Regions from separate parts of the Homo sapiens genome. Here region 1 is linked to region 2. Evidence: fine-mapped expression QTL. A gene starts in region 2. The other region holds a variant in brackets. All regions are shown on one strand. Distances are between the middles of the regions.

Region 1 (14,782 bases), 22 kb after region 2:
GAAAAATCTTCAGAGTGGGGTGCAACATGTTTTGTGTTTTTTTTTTTTTTTTCATTTTATTTATTTATTTATTTATTTATTTGAGACAGATTCTCACTCCGTCGCCCAGGCTGGAGTGCAGGGGCACGATCTCGGTTCACTGTAACCTCCGCCTCCCAGGTTCAAGCAATTATCCTGCCTCAGCCTCCCGAGTAGCTGGGACTACAGGCGTGCGCCACCACGCCCGGTTAATTTTTGTATTTTTAGTAGAGATGGGGTTTCACCATGTTAGCCAGGCAGGTCTCAAACTCCTCACCTCAGGTGATCCGCCCTCCTCGGCCCCTGAGTGTTGGGATTACAGGCGTGAGCTACCGCGCCCAGCTGCTTATTATTTTTTTCTTTACTTTTTATTTTATTTTATTTTGCTTTTGAGACAGGGTCTCGCTCTGTCACCCAGGCTGAAGTGCAGGGGTGCCATCTCGGCTCACTGCAGCCTCCCAGGTTCAAGCCATCCTCCTGCCTCAGACCCCCAAGCAGCTGGGACTACAGGCGCACACCACCATGCCTGGTTAGCAACGTTGTTTCTTTGTTAGTAGTAATAGCTGTTGTAATAAGACAAGCTCTTAGTTCAAGGTGGATAGACATGCAGGATGGGGCTAGAGGTAGACAGGGTATAATACTCCTCCCATGGCCGGATGCAGTGGCTCACGCCTGAATACTCTCTCACCTAGATTTAATTGATAGTTGTTAGCTAGGCAACAACTGTAATCCAGTACTTTGGGAGGCCAAGGCAGGAGGGTCACTTGAGTCCAGGAGTTCACTTGAGTCCAGCCTGGGCAACACAGTGAGATCTCATCACTACAAAAAAATTTAAGAATTAGCCAGGCGTGGGCCGGGCGTGGTGGCTCACGCCTGTAATCTCAGCATTTTGGGAGGCCGAGGTGGGCAGATCACGAGGTCAGGAGTTCGAGACCAGCCTGGCCAACATGGTAAAACCCTGTCTCTACTAAAAATACAAAAAATCAGCCAGGTGTGGTGGCAGGCGCCTGTAATCCCAGCTACTCAGGAGGCTGAGGCAGGAGAATAGCTTGAACCCAGGAGGCAGAGGTTGCAGTGATCCAAGACAGCGCCACTGCACTCCAGACTGGGCAACAGAGCAAGACTCTGTCTCAAAAAAAAAAAAAAAAAAGGATTAGCCAGGCGTGGTAGCATGTTCTTGTGGTCCCAGCTGCTTGTGGGGCTAAGGTGGGAGGATTCCTTGAGCCCAGGAGGTCAAGGCTGCAGTGAGCCATGTTCATGCCGCTGCACTCTAGTCTGAGTAACAGAACAAGACCCTGTATCAAAAAAAAAAAAAAAGAAAAAAGTAGTAGTTGGTAACATTGTGCTAAGTTCCCTTTATCTACATATGTGTATATATTGTTTCTTTTGCTAAACCTTTGGAGAGTAATTGCAAGCATCTTGATATTCTACCCTTAACAGCTCAGGAGGCATCTCTTAAGAATAAGGACATTAGGCCCTGTGCGTTGGCTCACACCTGTAATCCCAGCACTTTGGGAGGCTAAGGCGAGTGGATCACCGGAGGTCAGGAGTTCGAGACCAGGCTAACCAATATGATGAAACCCCGTCTCTACTAATAATACAAAAATTAGCCGGGCATGGTGGCATGTGCCTGTAATCCCAGCTACTCAGGAGGCTGAGACAGGAGAATTGCTTGAACCCAGGAGGTGGAGGTTGCAGTGAGCTGAGATTGCGTCATTGCACTCCAGCCTGGGCAACAAGAGCAAACTCCACCTAAAAAAAAAAAAGAATAAGGACATTCATGTACAAGCCACAAAAATACTATTTCACATCTAATAGAATCAAGAATTCCACAATATCACCTAATCAAATCTCTCCAACTGACCCAAGAATATCCTTTATAGTTGCTTTCTTTTCTCCAAAATCAGGATCCAATGAAGGTTCACATGCTAATTTGGTTGTAATGAAGAAATTACATACTATATTTTATTCTCGAATATTCCCCCACCCAAATCCCTTTTTTTTTTTTTTTTTTTTTTGAGACAGAGTCTTGCTCTGTCGCCCAGGCTGGAGTGCAGTGGCATGATCTTGGCTCACTGCAACCTCCATTTCCGGGTTAAAGTGATTCTCCTGCCTCAGCCTCCCGAGTAGCTGGGATTATTGGCGTGCGCCACCACGCCTGGCTAATTTTCTTGTGTTTTTAGTAGAGACAGGGTTTCGCCATGTTGGCCAGGCTGGTCTCAAACTCCTGACCTCAGGTGATCCACCCGCTTTGGCCTCCCAAAGTGCTGGGATTACAGGCATGAGCCACCACACTCAGCCTCAAATCCTTTTTGATGTTTTGTTGACATTGAATTTCTGGCAAAACAGACTAGTCATGCTGCATAGTGTCCCACATTCTGGATTTGTCTGACTGTGTTTAATTTGTTCCTCTCTTTTTCCAATAAGCTGGAGGTTGGGTCTAGGGGCCTGGTGAGATTCTGCTTATGCAGTGAACAGGGAGACTCCACAGGGTGTGTCCTAATCCTTATTAATGTACTTCCTAATCCTAACGCATTATAGTAGTTGGCACCAGTGTCAGGATGTCCCACCATTGGTAATGCAGAGTTTCATCACGTGATTAAGATTGTGAGGGTTACATCGTAAAATAAATTTATCCTTTCTAGTTAGCAAATAACCTTTGGGATGATGCTTTAGAGCCTGTGAAGATCCTATCTCCAAGATGTATGTGGTGGCTCATGCCTGTAATGCTGGCACTTTGGGAGGCCAAGGCGGGAACTTAAGCCCAGGAGGTTTTGTGATTTTTTTTTTTTTTTTTTTGAGACGGAGTCTCACTTTGTCGCCCAGGCTGGAGTGCAGTGGCACGATCTCGGCTCACTGCAAGCTCCGCCTCCTGGGTTCATGCCATTCTCCTGCCTCAGCCTCCTGAATAGCTGGGACTACAGGTGCCCGCCACCTCGCCCGGCTAATTTTTTTTCCTTTTTTTTTTTTTTGTATTTTTAGTAGAGACGGGGTTTCACCATGTTAGCCAGGATGGTCTCAATCTCCTGACCTCGTGATCCGCCCGCCTTTGCCTCCCAAAGTGCTGGGATTACAGGCGTGAGCCACCGCACTTGGCCAGTTTTTTTTTTTTTTTTTTTTTTTTTTGAGATGGAGTCTTGCTCTGTCGCCCAGGCTGGTGTGTAATGGCGTGGTCTTGGCTCACTTCAACTTCCGCCTCCCGGGTTCAAGGATTCTCCTGCCTCAGCCTCCTGAGTAGCTAGGATACAGGTGCATGCCACTATGCCTGGCTAATTTTTGTATGTTTAGTAGAGACAGGGTTTCACCATGTTAGCCAGGCTGGCCTCAAACTCCTGACCTCAGGTGATCTGCCCACTTTGGCCTCCCAAAGTGCTGGGATTACAGGCATGAGCCACCTTGGCCTCCCAAAGTGCTGGGATTACAGGCGTGAGCCACCACATCTGGCTTTTTTTTTTTGGGGGGGGGGATGGAGTCTCTGTCACCCAGGCTGGAGTGCAGTAGCACAATCTCAGCTCACTGCAACCTCCGCCTCCCGCGTTGAACTATTCTCCTGCCTCAGCCTCCTGGGTAGCTGGGATTATAGGCGTGCACCACCATGCCTGGCTAATTTTTGTATTTTCAGTAGAGACGGGGTTTCAACATGTTGGTCAGGCTGGTATCGAACTCCACCCACCTCGCCCTCCCAAAGTGCTGGGATTACAGGCATGAGCCACTGTGCCTGGCCAGAGCCCAGGAGTTTGAGACTAGCCTGGGCAACACAGCAAGACCCAATCTCCACAAAATACTGGTTTTTGTTTATGTTTTGTTTGTTTTTGAGACGGAGTCTCGCTCTGTCGCCAGGCTAGAGTGCAGTGGCACTATCTACAGAATACTGTTTTTAAAAACTTATCCTAGCATGGTGGCATGCACCTGCAGTCCCAGCTTCTTGGGAGGTTGAGGTGGATCACTTGAGCCCAGGAGTTTGAGGCTGCAGTGAGCCATGATTGCACTAGTGCACGCCAGCCTGGGTGAAAGAGTGAGACCCCAAAAGATCCTGTTTTCCACTAACTTTTCACCCAACTGTTTGAGCATTCATTGACAATTGCTGCCTGAATTAACTACCATAGTTAGCATTTTTGAGAACTTACTTTGGCCAGGAGCTTTATTCAAAACTAAAAGCTCTTCCCACAGCTCAGGAATTAACAAATGAGCTACTTGAAGAAGGTTAAGTCTCATTGCCAGTTTATGGGACGAGTATTTTTTTTTTTTTTTTTGAGACGGAGTTTCGCTCTTGTTGCCCAGGCTGGAGTGCAATGGCACAGTTTTGGCTCACCACAGCCTCTGTCTCCTGGGTTCAAGAAATTGTCCTGCCTCAGCCTCCCGAGTAGCTGCGATTACAGGCATGCACCACCACGCCTGACCAATTTTGTATTTTTAGTAGAGACGGGGTTTCTCCCTGTTGGTCAGGCTGGTCTTGAACTTCTGACCTCAGGTGATCCGCCTGCCTCGGCCTCCCAAAGTGCTGGGATTACAGGCATAAGCCACCATGCCCGGTCCACGCCTGGCTCTTAAATTTTTTTGTAGTGATGAGATCTTACCATGTTGCCCAGGCTGATCTTGAACTCCTGGACTCAAGTGACCCTCTTGCCTTGGCCTCACAAAGTACTGGGATTATAGTTGTTCCCTGTCCAACAACTATCAAATAAATCTAGGTGAGATAGTATTCAGATGCTCAGAATACTTTTTTTCCCCATCTTTTCTATGTGCTTGAATTTTTAATAATAAAATTAAGGTAAGATGCTAATTAGAACCAGGCCCCCACTAGGCAAATTCACATTTTCTGCCCTCCAGAATCCATTTTTATGGCTGGCAAAAGGGACGCCTGGACCTGGAGTCTCCCAGTGGCTTACTCCAGGTCATACACTGAAGGAAAAGGAAATTTTCCTTCATGCTTGTAGTTTCAGCTGCTTCAGAGGCTGAGGTGGGAGGATCGCTTGAACCTGGGAGACAGAGGTTGCAGTGAGCCAGGATCAGGCTGCTGCTGCGCTGTACTCCATCCTGGGCGACAGAGCAAGACTCTGTAAAAAAAAAAAAAACAAAAAACAAAAAACAAAAAACAAGAACAAGAGCTCAGAGGAATCATCTGATTAATATATATTTATTAAGCACCTACTATGTGGTGGCCACTGTTGTAGATGGTGAGGATACAGCACTGGGTAAATTTCACAGAGTCTCCCCTCTCATGGAACAGGGTAGGAGGTGAAGAGAGAAAATATATATGAAAACGAATGCATTCATTGATTTGCAAACATTTATGTCTTGAGCCCCTTTTGTGTGCCAGACACTGTTATAGGCACTGAAGAAAGGGCAGTGAAATTATAGATGAAAATCTCTTATGGGAGCAGATGAACAATAAACAAATTACCTTGGCCGGGCGCCGTGGCTCACGCCTGTAATCCCAGCACTTTGGGAGGTCGAGGCAGGCCGATCACTTGAGGTCAGAAGTTCGAGACCAGCCTGACCAACATGGTGAAACCCCATCTCTACTAAAGATACAAAAGTTAGCCGGGTGTGGTGGCAAGTACCTGTACTCCCAGCTACTTGGGAGGTTGAGGCAAGAGAATTGTTTGAACCCGGGAGGCAGAGATTGCAGTGAGCCGAGATCGTGCCACTGCGCTCCAGCCTGGGTGACAGAGCAAGACTCTGTCCGAAAAAAGAAAAGAAAACAATCTAAACAACAACAACAACAAAAATTGAAAAAAAGACAGCAAATTAAATCAATTTAATTTGCATTTTTAGTAGAGATGGGGTTTCGCCATGTTGATCAGGCTGGTCTCGAACTCCTGACCTCAGGTGATCCGCCCGCCTCGGCCTCCCAAAGTGCTGGGATTACAGGCATGAGCCACCACGTCTGGCCAGTTTTTTTTTAATTTTTTATTTGTAGAAGCAGAGTATCCCCATGTTGCCCAAGCTGGTCTTGAACTCCTGGGCTCGAGTGATCCTCATGCCTCCGATTCCCAAAGTGCTGGGATTACAGGAGTGAGCCACCTGGCCGCCGGGTCTACTTCTTTTGTTTCATCAGGTCTCTGCTGAATTGTCACCTCTTCAGACATAACACATCCTCCTCCCCAAAGCTGCACATCTCTCAGCTCACTGCAACCTCCAATCTCCTGAATTCAAGCAATTCTCCTACCTCAGCCTCCCGAGTAGCTGGGATTACAGGCGCCTGCCACCATGCCCGGCTAATTTTTTTTTTTTTTAATAGAGACGAGGGTTTCATCATGTTGGCCAGACTAGTCTCGAACTCCTGACCTCAAGTGATCCACCCGCCTGGGCCTCTCAAAGTGTTGGGATCACAGGCATGAGCCACTGCACCCGGTCTGCTTTTTTCTTTTCCTTTGCAATTACCTGCTCCTAAGGTACTAGATAATTTGTGTGGTTTTTTTGTTTTGTTTTGTTTTGAAAGTAGCCCGGCGTGATGGCAGGCGCCTGTAGTCCCAGCTACTCGGGAGGCTGAGACAGGAGAATTGCTTGAACCCGGGAGACGGAGGTTGCGGTGAGCCGAGACGGTGCCACTGCCATCTCAAAAAACAAAAACAAAAACAAACAAAAAAATTAGCCGGGCGTGCCTGTAGTTCCAGGTACTTGGAAGGCTGAGGTAGGAGAATCACTTGAACCTGGAGTTTGAAGCTGCAGTGAGCTATGATCGCCCCACTGTACTCCAGCCTGGGCGACAGAGAACGACTCTGTCTCAAAAAACAAACAAACCAAAACAAATGAGAGAGGTAGGAAAACTAGAGGAAGAGCATTCCAGGCAGAGGCGAGAGCCAGTGCAAAGGCTCTGAAGTGCTGCCTGTCAGGAGACAAGGCCAGGGCAGCTGGACTGGGAGCTGCCGGGAAGGAGGTCCGAGAAGTGAGGCCTTTTAGCCTACTCTGTGGACCTTTGTTTTTTACTCCGAGCGGGATGAGAAGACCCTGGAAGATGAATCGATGAGAAAAATAATTTCCGTTTCCGTTCAGTGACTTGAAGAAAACAAAATAAGACGGGATAATCGCCTGTAACCAGGGTGGTCCTAGAGAGAGATTCTTCGAGGCGTTGACATTGGAGCTGGGGCCAGAAAATGGAGACGGAGCCAGGAATTCAAAGGCTGGGGGAAGGGAGAAGAGGAGAGGCCGGGCCTGGGGAAATGAAACCATCGGCGAAGCCACCGGGCCCGGCAGGCCTGGAGAGAAGCCTCCGCCTGCTGGGGAGGGAGGCAGGGAGGGGGGTCGGGAGGCGCGGCCCGCCCCGTCCGGCCTCTGGGGAGGGAGGAGGCGCCAGGCCGGCTCCCGGCCGCGGCCGCCTCCCGGGTACCCCGGCCGGCCCAGGGCGGAGGGTGGGCAGCGGGGAGGGACTGGGCCTTCCCGCCACGCCCAGGGCGGGCCGCGGGCCCATCCCCCGCCGCGGAGGAGGGCAGGTTGGGGAACGTGGACACTGCCCTCGGGGACTCGGTTCCTTCTGCAGGGCCAGCCTTTCCACTTCTGTGGCCAGTTCTTTTTAACAAGTGCGGTGTTAAGGAAGGCGCTGGGCCTCTCGGAGCCTCAGTTTTTTCATCTGGAAAGAGGGTGCTCCTCTTACTGGCCTCATCGCGGTGCTAAGGAACTGTGCGATTCCCCTTCCCAGGGTTATCTTCAGGGCAGGCAGAGAGCTGCAGGGAAAGGGGGAGGGCGGGGCACGGTGGCTCACTTTTTAAACAAAAAGTTTGTTTGTTTGTTTCCAGACGAAGTCTTGCTCTGTCGCCCAGGCTGGAGTGCAGTGGCGCCATCTCGGCTCACTGCAACCTTCGCCTCCCGGGTTCAAGCAATTCTCCTGCCTCAGCCTCCCGAGTAGCTGGGATTACAGGCGCCCGCCACCACACCCGGCTAATTTTCAGTAGAGACGGGGTTTCACCATGTTGGCCAGGCTGGTCTCGAACTCCTAACCTCGTGATCCGCCTGCCTCGGCCTCCCAAAGTGCTGGGATTACAGGCATGATCCACCGCGCCTGGCCTGTTTGTTTTTGAGACGGAGTTTCGCTCTTGTCGCCCAGGCTGGAGTGCAGTGGCCCCATCTCAGCTCACTGCAATCTCCACCTCTCCGGTTCAAGCAATTATCCTGCCTCAGCCTCCGGAGTAGCTGGGATTACAGGCAGCTGCCACCTTGCCCAGATAATTTTTGTATTTTTAGTAGAAATGGGGTTTCACTATGTTGGCGAGGCTGGTATTGAATTCCTGACCTCAAGTAATCCGCCTGCCTCAGCCTCCCAAAGTGCTGGGATTGTAGGAGTGAGCCAGGGCGCCCTACCTGTTTTTGTTTTTGAAACAGGGTCTTGCTCTGTAGCCCAGGCTGGAGTGCAGCAGTGGGATTTCCTCTCACTGCAACCTCTGCCCATTATGGGCTCAAGCGATCCTTCTACCTCAGCCTCACTAGTAGCTGGGACTACAGGTGAGCACCACCACACCCAGTTTTTTTGTTTTTTTTGTTTTTTTGGTTTTTTTTTTGAGTAGAGACAGGACCTCAGGGCCTTGCCATGTTACCCCAGGCTGGTCTCAAGCTCCTGGGCTCAAGCAATCTGACTGCCTTGGCCTCCCAAAGTGCTGGGATTACAGGGGTGAGCCAACGTGCCTGGCCCTTCTTCAGGTTTTTACCCAAATGTCACCTTGTCTCAGACGCCCTATCTGGCCATCCTATGTAAATTGCAACACCCTCCTCACTCCTCTGCTCCCCCCTGCCCCCACAGCATTTATCACCACCTGGCTGACTTACACATTTTCACTTCTTTTTTTTTTTTTTTTTTTGAGACAGAGTCTTGCTCTGTCACCCAGGCTGGAGTGCAGTGGTGTGATCTCGGCTCACTGCAACCTCCGCCTCCCGGGTTCAAGTGATTCTCCTGCCTCAGCCTCCTGAGTAGCTGGGACTACAAGTGTGCATCACAATACCCAGCTAATTTTTGTATTTTTAGTAGAGATGGGGTTTTACCATGTTGGCCAGGCTGGTCTCGAACTCCTGACCTCAAATTATCCACCCACCTTGGCCTCCCAAAGTGTTGGGATTACAGGCGTGAGCCCCCACACCCGGCCTTATTTTTCTTTTTATTTACTTAATTATTTTTGAGACATAATTTTACTCTGGTTGCCCAGGCTGGAGTGCAGTGGCCTGATCTCAGTTCACTGCAACCTTCACCTCTCAGGTTCAAGCGATTCTCCTGCCTCAGCCTCTGGAGTAGCTGGGATTACAGGCGCCGGCCACCATGCCCAGCTAATTTTTTTGTATTTTTGGTAGAGAGGGGGTTTCACTGTGTTGGCCAGTCTGCTCTTGAACTCCTGACCTCAGGTGGTCCACTCGCCTTGGCCTCCCAAAGTGCTGGGATTGCAGGTGTGAGCCACAGCGCCCGGCCCTATCTAACTA[ACTAT/A]CTATCTATCTATCTATCTATCTATCTATCTATCTATCTATTTGGAGTGGGAGTCTCACTCTGTCGCTTAGGCTGGAGTGCAGTGCTGTGATCACAGCTCACTGTAACCTCCAACTCCTGGGCTGAAGAAGGGATCCTCCCACCCGAGTCTTCTGAATAGCTGGGACTAGCGTGCCCAGCTAATTTTTTTTTAAAATTGTTTTAGAGATGTGGTCTTGCTATGTTGCCCAAAGTGGTCTTGAATTCTTGGCCTCCAATAATCCTCCTGCCTCAGCCTCCTGAGTTACTGGGCTCATAGTCACGTGCTGCCATGCCTGGCATTATTTTTCATGTGTATTTCACTCTTCCCCCACTGTTAAATTTCATGAGAGCAGGAATTGTCTATTTTATTTATTTTCCTGCTGAAGAGTGCCAGGTCCACAGCAGGCACTCAATAAATCTGAGCCATTATTGGAATCCTTGGCCTGCCTCAGGCTCCCTGACACTTTGCAGTGTGAGGCAGGTATTACTCCAGATCCTTCAGTTTGGAATATGGTGTATATGAGGAACAGCAGGGAATGGTGTGGTGGGAGTATAAGAGTGAGGGTGTGTAGGGGAGATGAGTTCAGAAAGGTGGGAGGGAAAGTTAGTCATTGCTAGGTCTGGAGTTCATTTTTTTTTTTTTTTTTTTGAGACGGAGTCTTGCTCTGTCACCCAGGCTGGAGTGCAGTGGTGCAATCTCGGCTCACTGCAAGCTCCGCCTCCCAGGTTCACGCCATTCTCCTGCCTCAGCCTCCCGAGTAGCTGGGACTACAGGTGCCCGCCACCTCGCCCGGCTAATTTTTTTGTATTTTTAGTAGAGACGGGGTTTCACCGTGTTAGCCAGGATGGTCTCAATCTCCTGACCTCGTGATCTGCCCGCCTCGGCCTCCCAAAGTGCTGGAATTACAGGTGTGAGCCACCGCACCCGGCCTTTTTTTTTTTTTTTTTTTTTTTTTGAGACAGGACCTCCCTCTGTTGCTCTGTTCCAGATGGAGTGCTGGAGTGCAGTGGTGTTATCTCTGCTCACAGCCTCCATTTCCTGAGCTCGAGCGATCCTCCCACCTCAGCCTCCTGAGTAGGTGGGACTACAAGGGCATGCCATCAGCCCAGCTAATTTTATTTTAGTTTTTTGTAGAGATGGGGTCTCCCTGTGTTGCCCAGGCTGGTCTTGAACTGGACACAAGCGATCTTCCTGCCTCAGCCTCCCAAAATGCTGGGATTACAGGCGTGAACCACTGCACCTGGCCAAGTTTTTCAACAACAAATAATTTTTTTTTTTTTTGAGATGGAGTTTCGCTCTTGTTGCCCAGGCTGGAGTGCAATGGCACGATCTCAGCTCACCACAACCTCCGCCTCCTGGGTTCAAGTGATTCTCCTGCCTCAGCCTCCTGAGTAGCTGGGATTATAGCCATGTGCCACTACGCCTGGCTAATTTTGTATTTTTAGTAGAGACAGGGTTTTTCCATGGTGGTCAGGCTGGTTTCGAACTCCTAGCCTCAGGTGATCCGACCGCCTTGGCCTCCCAAAGTGCTGGGATTATAGGCGTGAGCTACCGTGCCTGACCCTTCAACAACAAATAATTTTGGAGAGTGCAGTTGTGCCAAGCATAGTTCTAGGCACAGACCAACACAACCCTCAGAGTTCCCAGGAGAGTAGGAGGCTACCTATAGATGGGAAATAAGTAACTCGAGATTGGGTAGATGCTACTAAAACAAAATCAGTCCAGGTGCAGTGGCTCATGCCTGTAATCCCAGCACTTTGGGAGGCCGAGGCGGGCGGATCACCTGAGGTCAGGAGTTCAAGACCAGCCTGACCAATATGGAGAAACGTTGTCTCTACTGAAAATACAAAATCAGCTGGGTGTGGTGGCGCATGCCTGTAATCCCAGCTGTTCGAGAGGCTGAGGCAGGAGAATCACTTGAACCCAGGAGGCGGAGGTTGTGGTGAGCCAAGATCGCGTCATTGCACTCCAGCCTGGGCAACAAGAGTAAAACTCCGTGTCAAAAAAAAAAAAAAAAAATTAGCCAGGTGTGGTGGCATGTGCCTGTAATCCCAGCTACTCGGAAGGCTAAGGTAGAAGAATTGCTGGAACTGGGAGGTAGAGGCTGCAGTGAGCCAAGATCATGCCACTACACTCCATTCTAGGAGACAGAGCAAGACTCCATCTCAAAAAAAAAGAAAGAAAGAAAATCAAACAAGTTGTGGTGGGGTGGTGACCCACCTGGATGTGTTGAGCTAGGAAGGGCAAGGAAGACCTCCCTGAGAAGGGGATATTGGGATTGGTGAAGCTATTGGGGAAAATGTCCACTGGGAAAATTTAACAGTTAGGGCAAAGGCCCTGGGGTGAGAAGGAGCTGGGGTCAAGGGAGCCCAGTTGAGTGATGGAGAGAGTGGGAGATGGAACTGAGAAAGTTGTCCGAAGTGAGAATAAGTCAGTCCTTGCAGGTCTTGGTGGAGCTGGCGCTTTATTGAGTGTGTCAAGAAGTCACTGGAGGCTGGGCGTGGTGGCTCATGCCTGTAATCCCAGCACTTTGGGAGGCTGAGATGTGAGGATCGCTTGATTCCAGGAGTTCAAGACCAGCCTGGGCTACATGGCACAACCCCATCTCTACAAAAAATACAAAAATTAGTCAGGTGTGGTCCACGTGCCTGTAGTCCCAGCTACTTGGGAGGCTGAGGCTGAGGTGGGAGAATTGCTTGAGTCCATGAGGTGGAGGTTGCAGTAAGCTGTGATTGTACCACTGCACTCCAGCCTGGGCGACAGAGCCAGAGACCCTGTCTCAAAAGAAAAAAAAAAAAAAAAAGGCACTGAAGGTTTCAAGGAGGAAGACATGATTCAATTGCCATCATATTGGGATGCAGACCTGGTTGCTTACCTTTTATTTTTATTTTTTACAATTCCACAGCAAGTATCACACCTGGTTGCTTTTTTTTTTTTTTTTTTGAGATGGAATCTCGCTCTGTCACTCAGGCTGGAGTGCAGTGGTATGATCTCAGCTCACTGCAACCTGTGCCTCCTGGATTCAAGTGATTCTCCTGCCTCAGCCTCCTGAGTAGCTGGGACCACAGGTGTTTGCCACCATGCCCAGCTAATTTTTTGTATTTTTAGTAGAGACAGGGCTTCGCCATGTTGGCCAGGCTGGTCTCAAACTCCTCACTTCAGGCAATCCTCCCGCCTTGGCCTCCCTAAGTACTGGAATTACAGGCCTGAGCCACCGCGCCTGGCCTGTACCTGGTTGCTTTCTTTAGATCCTCTGGGCCACCTCATTCCTCTCTCTGGATTGGCACCCACCTCTTCAGGTTATCCCTCCACTTTCTGACAATGACCCCTTCAGGTTGAGAAATCTGGCTTTGACCCAGAAACCACAAGCAAAATCCCCATCCTTTCTCCACCCATGGACTATACTCAGGTGTTGTTCCTCCTCGCAGCCCTTCCAGAAAAGTCCCTAATGCTGTGTAGCTCACTTGCTTCATCTCTTCAAAGACCATTGTAAAGGCATAGCCTGTACAGGTATCACATTACCTCTTCCTTCACTTCCTTCACCTCCTTCTCCTCTCCTGTATCTCAGCAGCCTGGGCTCGTACCTCCGAAATAAAGCATCAGCACAGGTCAGGCACAGTGGCTCATGCCTGTAATCCCAGCACTTTGGGAGGCTGAGGCAGGCGGGTCACTTGAGGTTAGGAGTTGGAGACAAGCCTGGCCAACATGGTGAAACTGTCTCTATTTTAAAAAAAATACAAAAATTAGCTGGGCGTGGTGGCAAGCACCTGTAGTCACTGCTATTCGGGAGGCTGAGGCAGGAGAATTGCCTGAACCCGGGAGTGGAGGTTGCAGTGAGCCAAAATCCTGTCATTGCACTCCAGCCTGGGTGACAGAGTGAGACTCCGTCTCAAAAAAAAAAAAAAAAAAAAAGCATTAGCACTATAAATCTAATCTGGGCTCTGCTTCCTAGCCAACTCTCCTAAAGAGGTCTTTTAGTACTGGGGGTCTTTGGGCATTTTCTTGCCCCTCTGGGCTCAGCAGCACATTCAGTGACACATACTCCGTGTGACTCAGTTTCTCCCTCCTGTGCCCACCCACGTGGCTGGTTAGTCTAAGAAGCAACATTTATAATAGTGAAGGACAAGGCTCTGGAGGCCATTTCAGCCTAGCTCCCTGGTCCTTGTTCTTCCTAGCTGTGTGGCTCTGAATTAAGTGACTTGTCCTCTCTAAACTTCTGGTTCCTCCTGTATAAAAAGTGGTAACAGTACTTACTTCTATATGAGGATTAACAGACTTAATTCAAATAAAGTGGCTAGAACAGTGCTCTTAACAAGCACTAATTTTTTTCTGAGGCTGGAGTGCAGTGGTGTGACCATGGCTTACTGCAGCCTCAACCTCCCAGGCTCAGGTGATCCTCCCAACTCAGCCTCCCCAGTAACTGGGACTACAGGCCGCCATGCCTAGCTCCTTTTTGTATTTTTTGTAGAGGCAGTGTTTCGCCACATTTCCCAGGCTGGCCTCAAGCAGATCCTCCCAAAGTGCTAGGATTCCAAGTGGGAGCTAGAGCACTCAGCCAACAAGCACTCAATAAATGTCATGTACAATGATACACCTACCCCAGCTATGGCACGGAAGTGGTGCTGATGTTTAGGAACTTACCAGGTCCCTCCCACTGACCCAGTGAAGTTTAGAAACATTAGACAACATCCCTCCTTCCAAAATACTTTTATTTAAAAAAATTACAAACAATCCAAAAAAAAAAAAAAAAGCCACCACAAACTCTGCCTTTCTTTTAAATAACCCGGCATGGAGCAGTTTGGTTTCCACCCTATTGCACGTGGTCCGGCCTGGTTATGAAATCAGGAGGCTGCTGAGACTGGGGTCCTGCCGAGGAAGTGGGGTTCAGCCTGGAGGGAGGACACCAGCCCCTCCCACCCCCTCAAGGTGCAAGAGGCAGAGCCTGGGTTTCTATAGCAACCTGGCAGCACATCCCTGTCATCCTTCGACAGGCCCAGCTTTCTTTATCTTCCCTGAGGCCCCAGTGGTCACAGGGGAGTGGGAACTAGCAGGAAAGGTGGAAGAAATGTGTAAGTGGAAAATCAGACTCCCAGAAACAGAGTCTCGTTAAGGCATTTGGAATAGATAAATTAATTCAGGAAGACCCACCTTCACAGAAGGTCGGGGTAACCAGACACACACACACATGCAAGACAGTTTGTGGAACCCTGAAATGGGAACAAAGGAGGCCATAGTCACTGCTTCGAGCCCCCACAAAAACACACACCCAGAGTTGCATTCAGGGATCCAGGCCACCGAAGATGACATGAGGAAGGATCGATCCCCTCTATCAC
Region 2 (15,081 bases):
CGCCCGGCCAAAAGCGGCTGTTCAGCGGGCCTTCAGGGCACACGCCCCTCGGCGCTGCCCTCGCAGGACGTCGGGGCACACCCACTCCGGCGTCTCCCCTTTAAGCAAGCCTGAGGGCAGCTGGCTTTCTAGGACCCGCGGAACGGTTAAACAGCTCCGCGGGCCGGCTGGCCTCTCCGAGGCCCTGGAGCGGCAGCCGAAAGGGGTTAGGGGAGGAGACGGGGTTGTAAGGGGAGGGACTGCGTCGGAGTGGGCTGGAGATAACTTGAGTTGTGATTGAGAGGCGGGACCAGGATCGTGGGGGCGTGGTCAGGTCGGGAGGGCGGGGCTGGGGGGGGTTGGTGCGGGTAGGAGGGGTAAGACAACACAGGCCTGAGAGGAAGAGCCAAATGGGGTATAGAAGGGTGCAAAAGATAGGAGAGGAATGTGGCCAGAGTTTATGGGAGGTTATTTGGAGCTGGGGCGGAGACCCTTATTATTTTTTTGTTGGGGGAGACAGGGTCTCTCACTCTGTCCCCAGGCTTGAGTGCAGTGGTGTGATCATGGCTCACTGCAGCCTCCACCTCCTTAAACTCAAGCAGACCTTCCGCTCCGGTCTCCCAAGTAGTTGGGAACATAGGCACGCGCCACCACGCCCAGCTAATTTTTAATTTTTTTTTTAAGAGACAGGGGTATCACTGTGTTGCCCAGGCTGGTCTCAAACTCCTGGCCTCAAGAGATCCTCCTGTCTCAGCCTCCCAAAGCACTGGGATTACAGGCATGAGCCACTGCATCTGGCCCGGAGACCCATATTCTACAAACTGAATTTAACTATGGGGGAGGGGCTTTAATTACAGCAGAACAAGAGAATAGTTGAGGATGGGATTCTGAGGAAGGGGCTGGCTGGACCTTCAAGCCCTCTGGGATTGGGGGGACAGGGAGTGGGATTTGCCTCCCTGCAGGCTTGAATGTGTGTGAGAATGTGCTCTATTGTAAATTCAATGACCCGAAGACCTGTGAAACGCCCACAGGAGAGGGAATCCAGTGAAGGGGGTCTGCGTGGGTAATGAATGGGACTGGGAGACATGGCATTCCCGGTATTTACTGTAAATGATGCAGATTGGACCTGGCCCAGAAGCCACTATGGGATTCACAATAGGGCTTCCCAGAAGAGGCAGTGACAAACCTGGATCCTGTCTAGGAATCCAATCTGCTGTGTGTCTTAGGAAGAATCTTGCCCTCTCTGGACCCACTTCCCTGCTGCAAAATAGGGTAACATAGGCATACTGGAAGGAGGTTGCAGTAGGGATCTGAGAGGACACTGTCATGGCCAACGCACTGGGGCCAGCACGGACTGGAATTGAGCCCAGGACTTGGAGGGAGAGCAGGTCTAGGCCAGATGCCCCACAGCAGTGGCCCCAAGGGACTAGGGGGCTGAGCAGGGCAGTCTGGGTAAGGAGAGTTGTGGCTGGGACTGTAGGGAACAGCATGACCACCAGTACCGCCCTTTGGCTCAGCAGGCCCTGGGCTCAGCATTTTATGTGCAGAATCTCTTTTTTTTTTTTTTTTTTTTTTTTTTTTTTGAGGCGGAGTCTCGCTCTGTCACCCAGGCTGGGAGTGCAGTGGCACAATCTTGGCTCACTGCAACCTCCACCTCCCGGGTCAAGCGATTCTCCTGCCTCAGCCTCCCGAGTAGCTGGGATTACAGGTGCACGCCACCACGCCCAGCTAATTTTTGTATTCTTAGTAGAGATAGAGTTTCACCATGTTGGCCAGGATGGTCTCGATCTCTTGACTTCATGATCCACCCGCCTCAGCTTCCCAGAGTGCTGAGATGACAGGCATGAGCCACCGCGCCCGGCCTCTTTTTTTTTTTTAAGAGTCGGAGTCAGGCCAGGCGCGGTAGCTCACACCTATAATCCCAGCACTTTGGGAGGCCAAGGCGGGAGGATCACCTGAGGTCAGGAGTTCAAGACCAGCCTGGCCAACATGGCGAAACTCCATCTCTACTAAAAGTCCTAAAATTAGCCAGGCGTGGTGGTGGGCGCCTGTAATCCCAGCTACTCGGGAGACTGAGGCAGGAGAATTGCTTGAACCTGGGAGGCGGAGGTTGCAGTGAGCTGAGATCGCACCACTGCACTCCAGCCTGGGTGACAAGACCAAGAATCCGTCTCAAAAAAAAAAAAAAAAAGAGTCGGAGTCTTGTTTTGCCCAGGCTGGTCTCCAGCTCCTGGGCTCAAGGGATCCTCTGGCCTCAGCCTCCCAGAGTGTTGGGATTACAGGTGTGAGCCATCGAATGCAGTCTGCAGGATCTCATTTCATCCTCTCCCTATAGCCTTGGGCAGTCACAGAGGAGGACACTAAGGCCCAGAGAGGTAAAGTGACTTGCCTAATGCCCTGTAGCAAGTTAAGCGGCTGGGCCTCAACCTTAGGTCTGTGACCCCAGAACTCATAGGCCATCCTGTGGGCAGAGAACTCCTGGCGCTGTACCCACTGCCTCTCGCCCCCAGTAGCAGCTTGGCCCCTGTAACAGTAGACCCGCTCTGTGCCTGGTATACAGTAAGACATGGTCAATGCCAATCCACCATCTCAGTAACAGTGACAGCAGCTGTCATTCAAAGAGGCTTCCTCAGCACCAGACTCTGTGCAAATGGCTCAAGCGGGAGTTCTCAGAGGTGGAGATCATTACCTCCATTTCTTTTTTTTTTTTTTTTTTTTGAGACAGAGTCTCACTGTGACCCTCAGGCTGGCATGCAATGGTGTGATCTCGGCTCACTGCCACCTCCGCTTCCTGGGTTCAAGCAATTCTTCTGCCTCAGCCTCCCGAGTAGCTGGGACTACAGGTGTGCACCATCATGCCCGGCTAATTTTTGTATTTTTAGCAGAGATGGGGTTTCACCGTATTGGCCAGGCTGGTCCCGAACTCCTAACCTCAAGTGATCCGCCCGCCTTGGCCTCCCGAAGTGCTGGGATTATAGGTGTGAGCCACTGCGCCCAGCCCCATTACCTCCATTTCAGTGGGAAACTGAGGCTGAAAGAGGTGAGATCATCTGCCCAGGGCCACACAGCTGAAGTGGTAGGGTTGGGATTTGAGCCATGGGTCCAAGCCCATGTCCTTAACTCCTACATTATATGCCCTTGTGTGTGTGTGTGTGTGTGTGTGTGTGTGTGTGTGTGTGTTTAGACAGGGTCTTTTTTTTTTTTTCTTTGTTTTTCTCATTTATTCTTTCCACACAGGAGACTTAATGAGACAGGATCTTGCTCTTTCACCCAGGCTGGCGTGCAGTGGTTCAATCATATCTCACTGCAACCTCAACCTCCTGGGTTCAGGTGATCCTCCCACCTCAGCCTCCTGAGTAGCTGGGACTACAGGAATGCACCACCAAACCCGGCTCATTTTTTTTTCCGGTAGAGACAGGGTCTTCCTATGTTGCCCAGGCTTGTCTCAAACTCCTAGGCTTTAGCGATCCTCCTGCCTCGGCCTCCCAAAGTGCTGGAATTCCAGGCCTGCGCCACTGCACCTGGCATATGCTGCCTCTTCTGATGAAGGGTTTCTGCCGGATTTTCTTCAGCTCCTTATTAATTTAGCTCCTTTGTGCGCCAGTGATTTCACTGCCTTGAGTCTTAGCCTGTGCCAGATGCTGCACTAAGGACATTACATATGTTAATTTTCTTCTCCTCACAGTGACCCATAAAATAGACCCTGTTATTATTTCCATTTCACAGATGGAGAGAATGAGGCACAGAGAGGCCAGAAAGTGTCTCCTTGCTGCCCTAGTCTGTGCCTCCCCATTGCCCTCAAGTGCGCCTTGCAGGACACGTGGGCACTCACCTCGGCACTCCGGCTCCTGGCCTCCATGGCGTTGCTGGGAGGCACCTGCACCCCAGGCTCCTGTGTCCTCTCCCCTTTCTGCTGCAGAACCAGCTTCAGTTCTGCATGGAGCAGCTGCCTCTGAGCCTGTGGGAGGACAGCAGTGGAGGCTTGAGGCCAGTAGGGGACGAGAGGTGGAGGCCATGCTTACAGGGAGAAAGCAGGGTGGGTATTAGAAGGGGAGAAGGGCCCCCACCCCAGCTGTCCTCTCACCGCTGCCTGGGTGCAGGCACTTCCTCCTAACAGGAGCCCAGCCCGAGGTGCCGCACAGCTGTCTGCAGGGCTCACGCCCTTCCGTGGGGTTCTTGCTGCCTGCCAGGGAAAGGCCAGGATGTGAAGCTCCAGGCAGGCGAGGAAGGGGTGGGGAGGGGCATATGGCACCAGCCTGCGCTCACCTGAGGGTCACCTCCAGCTCCTTGGGCCTCCTGGGTCCGGCGCTCTAAGAAGAATAATGTGAGCAGTGTTATTGGCTAACAGCCACCGATGACTTCCTGAGTGCCTGACCCTGCTGCGTTCTGCTGATACCCTATCCCCGTCGTGCAGGTGGGAAACTGAGCCTCAGAAGACCTTTACCCAGGATGACTCAGCTGGACAACACACGGTAAAGCCAAAACTGACTCCGAGGCCTGTCTGGCAGCAGAGCCCCCGTGCCAAAGATCTTGGCCAACTGAGGGGGCCAAATTCACTAAAAAATAATTGCTATTTGAGACAGGGTCTAGCTCTATTGCCCAGGCTGGAGTGCAGTGGTGCAATCACGGCACACTGCTGCCTCGGTCTCTGGGCTCAGGCGATCCTCCCACCTTGGCCTCCCGAGTAGCTGGGACCACAGGTGCATGCCACAACACCCGGCTACGTTTTTGTTGTTGTTGGTGGTGTGTGTGTGTGTGTGTGTGTGTGTGTGTGAGAGAGAGAGTTTTGCTCTGTCACCTAGGCTGGAGTGCAATGGCGCGATCTTGGCTCACTGCAGCCTCCAACTCCTGGGTTCAAGTGATTCTCCCGCCTCAGCCTCCCGAGTAGTTGGGACTACAGGCACGCACCTTGGGACTACAGGTACGCACCGCCATACCCGGCTATTTCTTGTATTTTTAGTAGAGACGGAGTTTCACCATGCTGGCCAGGCTGGTCTTGAACTCCTGACTGCAAGTGATCAGCCCACCTTGGCCTCCCAAAGTGCTGGAATTACAGGCATGAGCCTCCACACCTGGCAACACCAGGTTAATTTTTTAAATTAATTTGTAGAGATGGAGTCTCCCTAGGTTGCCCAAACTGAGCTCCAACTCCTGGGCTCATGCTATCCTCCTGCCTCAGCCTCTTGATGCTATAAAATAATTATAGCCACTCCCATGTACTCCCAGTGAGCAAATCACAGCTCCTCTCTGTGCTTCAGTTATGTTGTCTATAAAATGTGGAGAATAAGAGCTTTTACCTCGCAGGGCTGTTCCGAGGCTCAAATGAGTTAATAAGTGTAAAGTGCCAGGCACCTGGCAGGTGCTTTATAAATACTTGCTATTATTATTATTATTATTATTATTATTATTATTATTTTGAGACAGAGTCTCGCTCTGTTGTCCAAGCTGGAGTGAAGTGGTGCGAATTCGGCTTACTACAACCTCTGCCTCCTGGGTTCAAGTGATTCTCCTGCCTCAGCCTCCCAAGTAGCTGGGATTACAGGTGCCCACCACCACGCCTGGCTACTTTTTGTATTTTTAGTAGAGATGGGGTTTCACCATGTTGGCAGGCTGGTCTGGAACTCCTGACCTCAGGTGATCCACCTGCCTCAGCCTCCCAAAGTGCTGGGATTACAGGCATGAGCCACTGCACCTGTCAGGCCATTATTATTACTAAGAACTTCCTATGGCCCTGACCTTGTGTCGAGCGCCCCACATGCTCCACTGCACATGGCCCTCAGCACAGCCTTGTGCAATCAGCTACTACTGAGCCCATTACAGAGGAGACACCTGAGGCTGGGGGAAGGGATGTCACTAGCCCAGGTCACAAATGGTCGAGCCAGGACTTGAATTTGTCTGAAGGCTCCAGCCCTTTATCTGGGTAGTAATAATACCTGATGGGTACTGAGTGATTAGTATTTGCTGGCCCCCGTGCTAAGACCTTCACCTTCTACTTCACCTCGGAAAACCCCATTTCCTGAGAGGCCAAAAGAACTTGCTCAAGGCCTCATAGCACAGCCAGAAGGAGGCAAAGCTGAAATTCACATGCAGCCACCCGCCAGGCCCATCTGGGGAAATGGAGATGAATACTCTCTCCCCCAACCCCCGACTCTGGGCTTGTCCTCACAGCCCCCACCTGGCATGCCAACCCGCCAACCCCTATTGCACAGGGAAAGGTCAGGCCTCACGCGGCACATTCCCTCACACAATGGCCCGTCTGCTGTGCTCAGTTGCATTCCGCCCCTGCCCACCCACCCTGGCCACACAATGGCCTTTCATAGCCCATCAGTGGCCAGGAGAGAGGACATGGGGACCCCTTAACACTCCCACAGCACCCACGCCCCCCACAGTGTAAGAGGGCTTCTCTCTGCATCTCCTAGGGGGTCCTGGTCTCTGTGGCCTTCCCTGGGATCCCCTGTGAGCCCCCTACACCTTCCAGGCTGTGCCAGGACTTGAACTTGTCTAAAAACTCCAGCACGGGCTGGGCGCGTGGCTTAGGCCTGTAATCCCAACACTTTAGGAGGCCGAGGTGGGTGGATCACGAGGTCAGGGGTTCGAGACCAGTCTGGCCAATATGGTGAAACCCCGTTTCTACTAAAAATACTAAAATTAGCCAGGCGTGGCAGCGCGCGCCTGTAATCCCAGCTACTCGGGAGGCTGAGGCAGGAGAATCGCTTCAGCCTGGGAAGCGGAGGTTGTGGTGAGCTGAGAATGCACCACTGCACTCCAGCCTGTGCGATAGAGCGAGACTCCATCTCAAAAAAATAAAAATAAAAATAAAAAAAGCTCCAGCGCTTTAGCTGGACAATCATAATAACAACTGATGGGTATTGAGTGGTTAGTATTAATATTAGCTGGTCCCTGCACTAAGACCTTGTCTGCCATGTCTGGGGCATTTCCTCTGAATTGGGCCCTGTGCTAGCACCCACAGGCCTCAAAATCACCCTAGATGTTGTGGCTGTTATGGGGTGGAAACTGAGGCTCACAGAGGGGTCACCCAGCCAGAAAGGGGCAGAGCTAGGACCCGTGCCTGCCCTTCACCCCTGCTTCACCTTAATTTGCATTGGTGGCTCTGCGCACTGGGGCAGGAGCTGGGTTGGGCAGGAGGGGGCCAACGGTGCTAGAAACACACCCAGGCCAGGTGCCGGGCCTGGACCGGGCAGGCGCTTTACATACTTGACCTTGTGGGACCCCATTTAACTGATGAGTCAATGAGAGTTAAGAGACCGGTGATCACAGTGACAGAGTCGAGACTTGAGCCCAGGTGTGAAAGCGAACTCAGTTCCCTTACCCAGGACTGATACACAGCACAGAGTCCTGAGCTGGGGACACGAGAAGCCTGAACCTTGTAGGTGGTAGTAGAGGGGGTCTCCTGGGTCATCAGCTCTCTGTCCCAGGCCCGTGGCTGTGAGGGTCATGCCCGGAGCCTGGCACAGGAAGTTCAGGCGGGGCAGGGACAAGAGAGAGTGCCCTCCTTCTTCGTCCCTGCCTGGACAGGCACCCAGCCCAGGTTATATTTAGCCCAACTGTGCTCTTCCTGAGCCACGTACCCAGCCCCTGGGGTAAGGTGGGGGCAGCTTCGGAAGGAAACCCACAGAGAGGACTCTGTGTTCCCAGCTCTGCCTATCCCACTAGGCAGGGGAAAGAGGGGTGGGGAGGCTCCTGGGGAGGGTCCCTGCCTTGTGTTAGAGGCAGATCCACTGGGACCAGGCAGACACTCCAGATGCCAGCAGCCTATTTCTTGGGTAGTTACTGTGGCATGACCCTGGCATATGCCAGAACTTTCAGAATCCCCAGGGTCCCCATTTCTTGAGCACCTACTGTGTGCTAAGATCCTTCCTGTCTTGGCTCCTTAAATCTTTGTAACATCTCCCTGGAGTGGGTACAACTGAGATATCCATTTCAGATGCGACTTATGCCCTTCAGAGCAGCTGGGAGCGAGGGGTTGTCATTCGGAGGCTGCTGAGGGATCGGCTGAGGGCATTGCCCTTCTGGCCCTCTTTCCCTGGTGACTGCCACCAACTTCACTTGGGAACCCTGCCTGCTCAGAGCCTCAGCTTTCCCCCGCCACCAGCGTGATCTCTCATAGCAATGGGGGTCAGGGGTTGGGCTGACTCATCCAGACCTCTAAACATTATCTGAGGCCACCTAGGGGGTCAGGGGGAGTTAAGGCAGTGGCCTCTGGCTGCCTCGGTTAGTCCCTGCTCCAGCACTTCCCAGGTGTGAGGACTTGGGCAAGATCCTTCATCTCTGGGGCCTCAGTTTCTCCATCTGTAAAATGGAGCCAATAAGAAAGGCTTTGAAGATTTGTGAGAGAACAGCAGGTGCTTAGAATATCCCTCCTGTATAGTAAATGCTTGATTAATATAAACTCGTCTCTGACAGCAACAGGGAGAGTATGGAGGGAGGGAGCTGTGCTTCTCACAGTGTTGCACATCCAACCTTTGCTCCTCAGTGGCCCCCACTTTCTCTGCTACCAAAGGGGAGCTTTGGCTGAGAGACAAAACCCAGCTCAGGCACCAGCCTCCCAACAGGATCCATGCTGCCTCCCTAGCACCCTACTCCAGGGACCCACCCCAGGCCTCCTGCCCCAGCTCTGGTGTTTGTTAGTTTGTTTTTTGGAGACAGGGTCTCCCTCTGTCACTGAGACTGGAGTGCAGAGGTGTGATCACGGCTCACTGCAGCCCCAACCTCCTGGGCCCAACCCAATCTCCCATCTCAGCCTCCAGAGTAGCTGGAACCACAGGCATGCACCACCATGCCCAGCTAATTAAAAAAAATTTTTTTTTGTTTTGTAGAGATGGGGGCCTCTCTATGTGGCCCAGGCTGGTCTCGAACTCCTGGGCTTAAGCAGTCCTGCCGCCTCAGCCTCCCAAAGTGCTGGGATTATAGGCATGAGCCACCATGCCTGGCTGCCCTAGCTCTTTAAAAGCAGCAACTCATTTACTCGGCACCAGCCCTGTGAGGTGGCCTCCAGACATCAGCCCATTTTAGAGATGGGGAAACAGAGGCACAAAGGATGAAGTATCTTGCCCAAGGCTGCACAGCCAGAAAGGAGAGGAAAGGGGATTTGAACCACCAGCTCCAAAGTCTATACCTTTAACACCTACACCACACGGCTTCCTGAGCCCCCAGGCCCCCTCCCAGCACCTCCCGGGACCCTGAACCTCATTCCCACAGTGTCTCAGCCTGGCCAGGGAAGGGACCGGCCGGCTGATCTCTTACCGCTGAGCCTCCAGACACCTCGAGAGCTCCTGGTCCCGTCTGTCAGCCCTAGCCCTAGGCTGGGGGGGAAAAGGAATGGGGAGGGGGGAGGAGAGAGAGACCCCAGCCATTGGCTGCGGGGGTGTGACGTCACCAGAGGGTGGGTGGTGGAGAAACAAACATCCCCCTCCTCCAGCTACATCTATCCCCAAGGGGTGGGGGCCACGGGACAGCCACCAGCCGCCTCTCTCTTGCCTGGGCCGAGATCTCTGCCATGAGCTCAGCTTCAAGGATTTGCACGTTGGCTTCCTCGACTTGGAGAATCAGGACCCCACCCCAGCCCCACTGTTTCCTGGCTCCAGGACCCGGGCCTGGCCAACTGCCTCTACTGTAAACTCCTTTCACTCCCTCTCCCTGTCAACTTGGGTTCAAATCGCAGCGCGACCACTTCCTCGCTGGGTGACCTGCTGCCAGTCACAGCTTCTCTTTGCGGATAGTAAGAGTACCCACCTTATGGGGCTGTGGTGAAGATTAAACGAGTTAAAAGAGACTGAAAATGTAAGACAATGCCGGGCACATAATGAGGGTTACTAATAAGTATTTGGTATTATTTTTCACACAAATTAGGTGGCTGGCTCATCTTGCTGGGGGGTTTTGGCCCCTTTTCAGTAAGGCTGGGCACAGGGGACCCCCAGTTCTCTGTCTAATGGAGTTACTGTTTAGGGGGACACCTATCACATACTAAGTACCATGCTCAGTGCTGAAGCCCTGCTTTTGAATCAAGGGTGTAAAATGGGCTCCTTATGCTCCCCACCCTTTTTTTTGAGACAAGGTCTCACTCTGTTGCCCAGGCTGGAGTGCAGTGGTGTGATCATGGCTCACTGCAGCCTCCACCTCCTGGGCTCAAGCAATCCTCCCGACTGAGCCCCCTCAAATAGCTGGGACCACAGGTATGCATCATCATGCCCAGCTAATTTTTGTATTTTTTGTAATGGCAAAGTTTCACCATGTTGCCCAGGCTGGTCTCGAACTCCTGGGCTCAAGCGATCTTCCCACTTCGGCCTCCCAAAGTTCTGGGATTACAGGCGTGAGCCACCGCGTCCAGCTATGCCCAATTTATAGCTATGTGGCCAGGAGGTGGTGAAGCTGAGGTCCAACCCCTGTTCTCCTGGACCACAAAAACCCTGCTACACTCTTCTGCCCCTTCCACTTTGCAGACCAGAAGGCTCAGAGAAGGTAAGTGACTCTCCCAATATCACCATAGCAGGTCATTGGCAGGGGTCCAGAGTTGAACCCAGACCTGCCCGACTCCCAAGCCAAAGCTACCAGGCCTCACCCCCAACCCCTGGACCCTGGTCCAGCCCCCAGCCTGCCCTGACTCACCAGACCCCGGGGGGCGGCACAGGGAGCACAGGTACCCCCACATGCCACTTGAACCCACCCGGCTGCTGCCTCGGAAGCTCGTCGCTCTCTGAACCCAGGCCCCAGGCCTGGGCTGGGCTGAGGCTGGGGGATTACCCCCAAAGCGCATGTCAGCAGCTTCTGCCCCATTGTCCAGCCAGGCACAGACACCAAGCCCTGGCCTCTGTCGGCACCCTCGCCCCTCACACCAGCCTGGGTGGCCCCTCTGCAGACCTGTCCCCCATCTCACACCAGAGGGTTGGGGCCTACTTCAGAGGGCGTGGGGGACCAGGCCAGGATGGCAGGATCCCGGAATGCTGGGGGCCTCCCTCCCTTCTCTCTGAAATGCCCCCTGCCCACTCTCAGCCACCGGGGAAGGCAGGAATGTGCTGAGCTCTGGGAAATGCCTTCCAGGCCTGGCAGCAACCAAGCATTGGGGTGTGGCCAGAAGCCAGCCAGAGCCCTCCTCCCAGGAGGGGTAGAAGGGATGGTATGGTCGGGGCTCCCGATGGGCCTGAGGAGACCCTCACTTCATTGCAGTCTCTCTCCTTCATTGATTCACGCAAACATTCTTTTGTTCCTATATTCATTCAACAAACACTCACAAGCCCTGTTTAGTGGTAGGTCTTTTGCTGGGCACAGGGGACATCAACAGATCTAACTCCACCCCAGGGAGGAGGCGGCAAACTCAGGAAAGGATCCTGCAGGAGGTGATATCGGCAGTCAAACTGAATTAGCCAGGCGTGGTGGCGGGCACCTGTGATCCCAGCTACTCGGGAGGCTGAGCAGGAGAATTGCTTAAACCCAGGAGGCAGAGGTTACAGTGAGGCAAGATTGCGCCATTGCACTCCAGCCTGGGTGACAGAGCGAGACTCTGTCTCAAAAAGAAAATAATAATAAATAATAAAAGGAAGTCAAAATGGAAGATTGAGGAGGAGGGAGCTAAGGAAAAAAGGAGGGAAGGGGGTTCCAGGCAGAGGGACAAATGTGGGCAAAGGACCAGAGGTGAGAAATGGAGCGGGTCTTCATTCACCATCAGCAAACATTCAGTGAGCACCTGGTCTTCTGTCCAGTCCCAGGCTGGATGGTGCTGGGGACACAGTGTGACTGGGACAGCTCAGGCCTGCATCCACACCATTCACAGTCCAGCAGGGAACAAACCCAGAAAGAGGAGGGTTGTGATGGGGCAATCATAGGCAGAGAGGTCAAAGCCTTGATGGGGAAGTCCAGAAAAGGTGGCTGCCCCAGCCTAGGAAGAGAAATCAAGGAGGGCTTCCTGGAGGAAGTGGCATTTGAGCTTGCACCTGGAGGATATATAGAAGTTAACCCAAAGCCATGGGTGGTGAAGGAATGACAGTGTGTTTCAGGTAGCGGGAACACCCTGTGCAAAGGCCCTTTGAGAAAACGGTTAAGGTGAGAGTGTGAGGGAAAGGTAAGAGGAGGTCCAGGGGTCAGCAGGGCCATGAGGAGGGCCTCAGACTTTGTCCTGTGGGCCCTGAAGAGCTATCAGAGGGACAAAGTATGAATAGCACTGAGCTTTTAGGTACCTGAAGGCAGAAAGAGGCTGAGCTATCAGCCAGGCTAGCATAGGGAAGAAAATCCCCCTCTCTCTGCTCAGGGTCAAACAGAAAAGGGAGGCTGGTACACAACATCCCCTCTCTTCCCTTGTCGCAGAGAGCAGAGATCTTTGCTTGTTCTCAGTCTTAGGGGAAAGCATTTAACCTTTTGCCATAAAGTAGGAAGTTAGCGGTCCATGTTTTGTAGATACGCTTTATCAGGTTAAGGAAGCTTCTTTCCCTAGTTTGCTGTGAGTTTTTTGTTTTCTTGTTTTTGAGAGATGCGGGTCTCACTATGTTGCCCAGGCTGGCCTCAAACTCCTGGCCTCAAGCGATCCTCCTGCCTTGGCCTCCCAAAGTGCTGACATTACAGGCATGAGCCACTGTGCCTGGCCTGCTGTGAGTTATTTTCTTTCTTTTTTTTAATTTTTCTTTTGTTTTTTTTTTTTTAGGCAGAGTTTTCGCTCTTTCACCCAGGCTGGAGCAAAGTGGCACAATCTCGGCTCACTGCAACCTTCGCCCCCTGGGTTCAAGAGATTCTCCTGCCTCAGCCTCCCGAGTAGCTGGGATTACAGGCGCCTACCACCACACCCAGCTAATTTTTGTATTTTACACTTGATCTTAGCCAAAAGGCCAAGAAGCAATAATTTTGTATTTTTAGCAGAGATGGGGGTTTCGCCATGTTGGCCAGGCTGGTCTTGAACTCCTGACCTCAGGTAATCCACCCGCCTTGGCCTCTCAAACTGTTGCGGTTACAGGCATGAGTCACCACACCTGGACTGTTGTGAATTCTTATCACGAATGGTGTGTCTCTCTGTGTGTCTCTATCTTTGTGTCTCTCTGTTCTTCTGTTTCTCTCTGTCCTTATTCTTTGTCTCTCTTTCCTAGTTTCTTTCTGTCTCATTCTGTCTGTGCGTTTCTCTCTCCCTCTCTCTCTGTCATGCTTTCCCTCACCCAAGGGGGTGTGGCCACGGGAAGCTAAGTTGGGGGTGGCCCCAGTGTCCTGGTTCCGGCTGTGGCCACCGCAGTAAACACAGGACATCCTGTGAGGCTAGGGAAGGAGGTGGACGCTTCTTCTCAGGGACCACCCTCTCCAGACTCAGTCTGAGCCAAGCAGGAGCCTTGGCCTGCCCTGCGTGGCCTAGCCACTCCGCCCCACCCAGTCCAGCCAAGGGACACTGGTGTCTCCCTCGATCCCACCGTTCACGCCCACCCCCACACCCCAGTCCTCTCTCCTGAGCTCCCGGCCCAGGGCCCGGGCAGCTCCATGCCTTCCCCTGGGTGTCTCCCCAGCCTCTTGCACCCCCTGGGTCCCTCCTTGGCCTCAGCCCCAACCCCAGACTTGCTTCTCTCCCCAGTTGCCATCTCAGGGATGGCCCCAGTGTCTCCCAGTCCCCTGATTAGAGCCCTGAGCCTGGTCTGAGACCCCTCCTCCAGGCCTTGTCAGTCCCACAGCCTGTCTGCTGGGCCTCCTGAGTGCCTCTTCCCTCCCAACAGCTGCTCCGTCCCTCCCCAGATTCTCCACCCCTGGGATCCTGGGCTCCTGGCCTCCAGTGTCACCTCCCCGACGATGCCACCCACCTAGTGAAGGGATCCTTTTACTTCATGACTCCCCAGCATCTTCAGAGTTAAGTCCCCCATCCAGGGTCCTATATGCCCTGGCCCCTGCGGACCCTTCCAGTCTTGTCATTTACCTTACTGCTTTCCTCCTCCTTCCAGCCAAACCCAGCAGCTTAGAGATCCCTGAAAATGTTGTAGGGTCTCTCTCTCAGTGACCCTTGCTGTTTCCTTGCCCACCAGAACAATAGTTCTTTGGGGCAGATACTGTTACTGTTCCAGTTTACAGGTGAGGACCCCGAGGCTCAGAGAAGTTAAGTACCTTGCCTAGAGTCACACAGCCACAGAGCGGTAACTCTTTTTTCTTTTCTTTTCTTTTCTTTTCTTTTCTTTCTTCCTTTCTTTTCTTTCTTTCTTCCTTTCTTTCTTTTCTTTCTTCCTTTCTTTCTTTCCCTTCCTTCCTTTTTTCTTCTCTCTCTTTCCTTTCTTTCTTCCTTCCTTCCTCTCTCTCCCTTCCTTCCCTCCCTCCTTCCTTCCCTCCTGCCTTCCTTCCTTCCGTCCTTCCTTCTTTCTTTCTGACAGGGTCTTGTTCTGTCACCCAGGCTGGAGTGCAGTGGTGCAATCATGGCTCATTGCAGCCTCAAACTCCTGGCCTCAAGTGATCTTCTCACCTCAACCTCCTGAGTAGCTGGGACTACAGGCGTGAGCCGTCGCATCTGGCCAAAGCTGGGGTTCAAACCCAGGCAGTCTGGCTTTCAGGAACAGTCTCTTCTCTCCAGCTTACTGCTTCAATAATATCTCTGTTAGATTTCTAAAGTGTGCCGGGACTGCATACCATAGGTGCTCAATAAGTGTTTTTTAATTTTGTTTGGTTTGGTTTTTTTGAGATGGAGTCTCGCTCTGTCGCCAGGCTGGAGTGCAGCAGCACAATCTCGGCTCACTGCAACCTCCGCCTCCCGGGTTCAAGTGATTCTCCTGCCTCAGCCTCCTGAGTAGCTGGGATTACAGGCCCGCCACCTTGCCCAGATAATTTTTGTATTTTTAGTAGAAATGGGGTTTCACCATGTTGGCCAGGATGGTCTCAATCTCTTGACCTTGTGATCCACCTGCCTCGGCCTCCCAAAATGCTGGGATTACAGGCGTGAACCACCATGCCCGGCCACTCAATAAGTGTCTAATGAATAGGGACAGAGGTAGAAGGTGAGCCTTGGAAAGTACAGAATTCAGACCCCAGAGAAGTGGGGTAATAAGGGCCCAGGGGCAGGGGAGAGATGTGGTCAGATTTACCCTTTACATAGGGATAGGCACACAGTAGGTGTGTGCTCATAAATTTTTGCTGAATGAA

Direction of the effects. Alleles are on the strand shown, and positions count from the first base shown. SD is a standard deviation of normalised expression in the study named.
For the expression in naive CD8 T cells of the gene that starts at base 9,284 in region 2, A is the high allele of the variant in region 1 and ACTAT is the other (large effect, 1.8 SD a copy in Schmiedel 2018).

The links. PIP is the estimated chance that this variant, and not a neighbour inherited with it, causes the effect.
Region 1: its variant is fine-mapped to the expression of PRX in naive CD8 T cells (Schmiedel 2018, PIP 0.95). The same link has a PIP of 0.9 or more in Th17 cells.

The regions. Positions count from the first base shown.
Region 1 is chr19:40,426,704-40,441,485 of GRCh38, forward strand. SERTAD3 (SERTA domain containing 3) reads right to left here. Exons shown (of 2, transcript NM_203344.3): 2 at 14,141-14,782. Among named protein-coding and RNA genes, the nearest start is that of SERTAD1, 8.1 kb to the left of the region's middle. RefSeq lists enhancers at 6,537-7,365, 7,041-7,120, a silencer at 7,231-7,520 and a cis regulatory region at 8,599-8,863. The variant ACTAT/A (reference allele first, on the strand shown) is at 9,424.
Region 2 is chr19:40,404,095-40,419,175 of GRCh38, forward strand. It overlaps PRX (periaxin), which reads right to left and starts at 9,284. Exons shown (of 7, transcript NM_181882.3): 1 at 9,244-9,284; 2 at 4,246-4,289; 3 at 4,064-4,162; 4 at 3,812-3,937. The coding sequence starts at 3,838. RefSeq lists a silencer at 506-555 and enhancers at 4,036-4,165, 5,392-5,985, 5,904-6,073, 5,986-6,577, 10,094-10,742.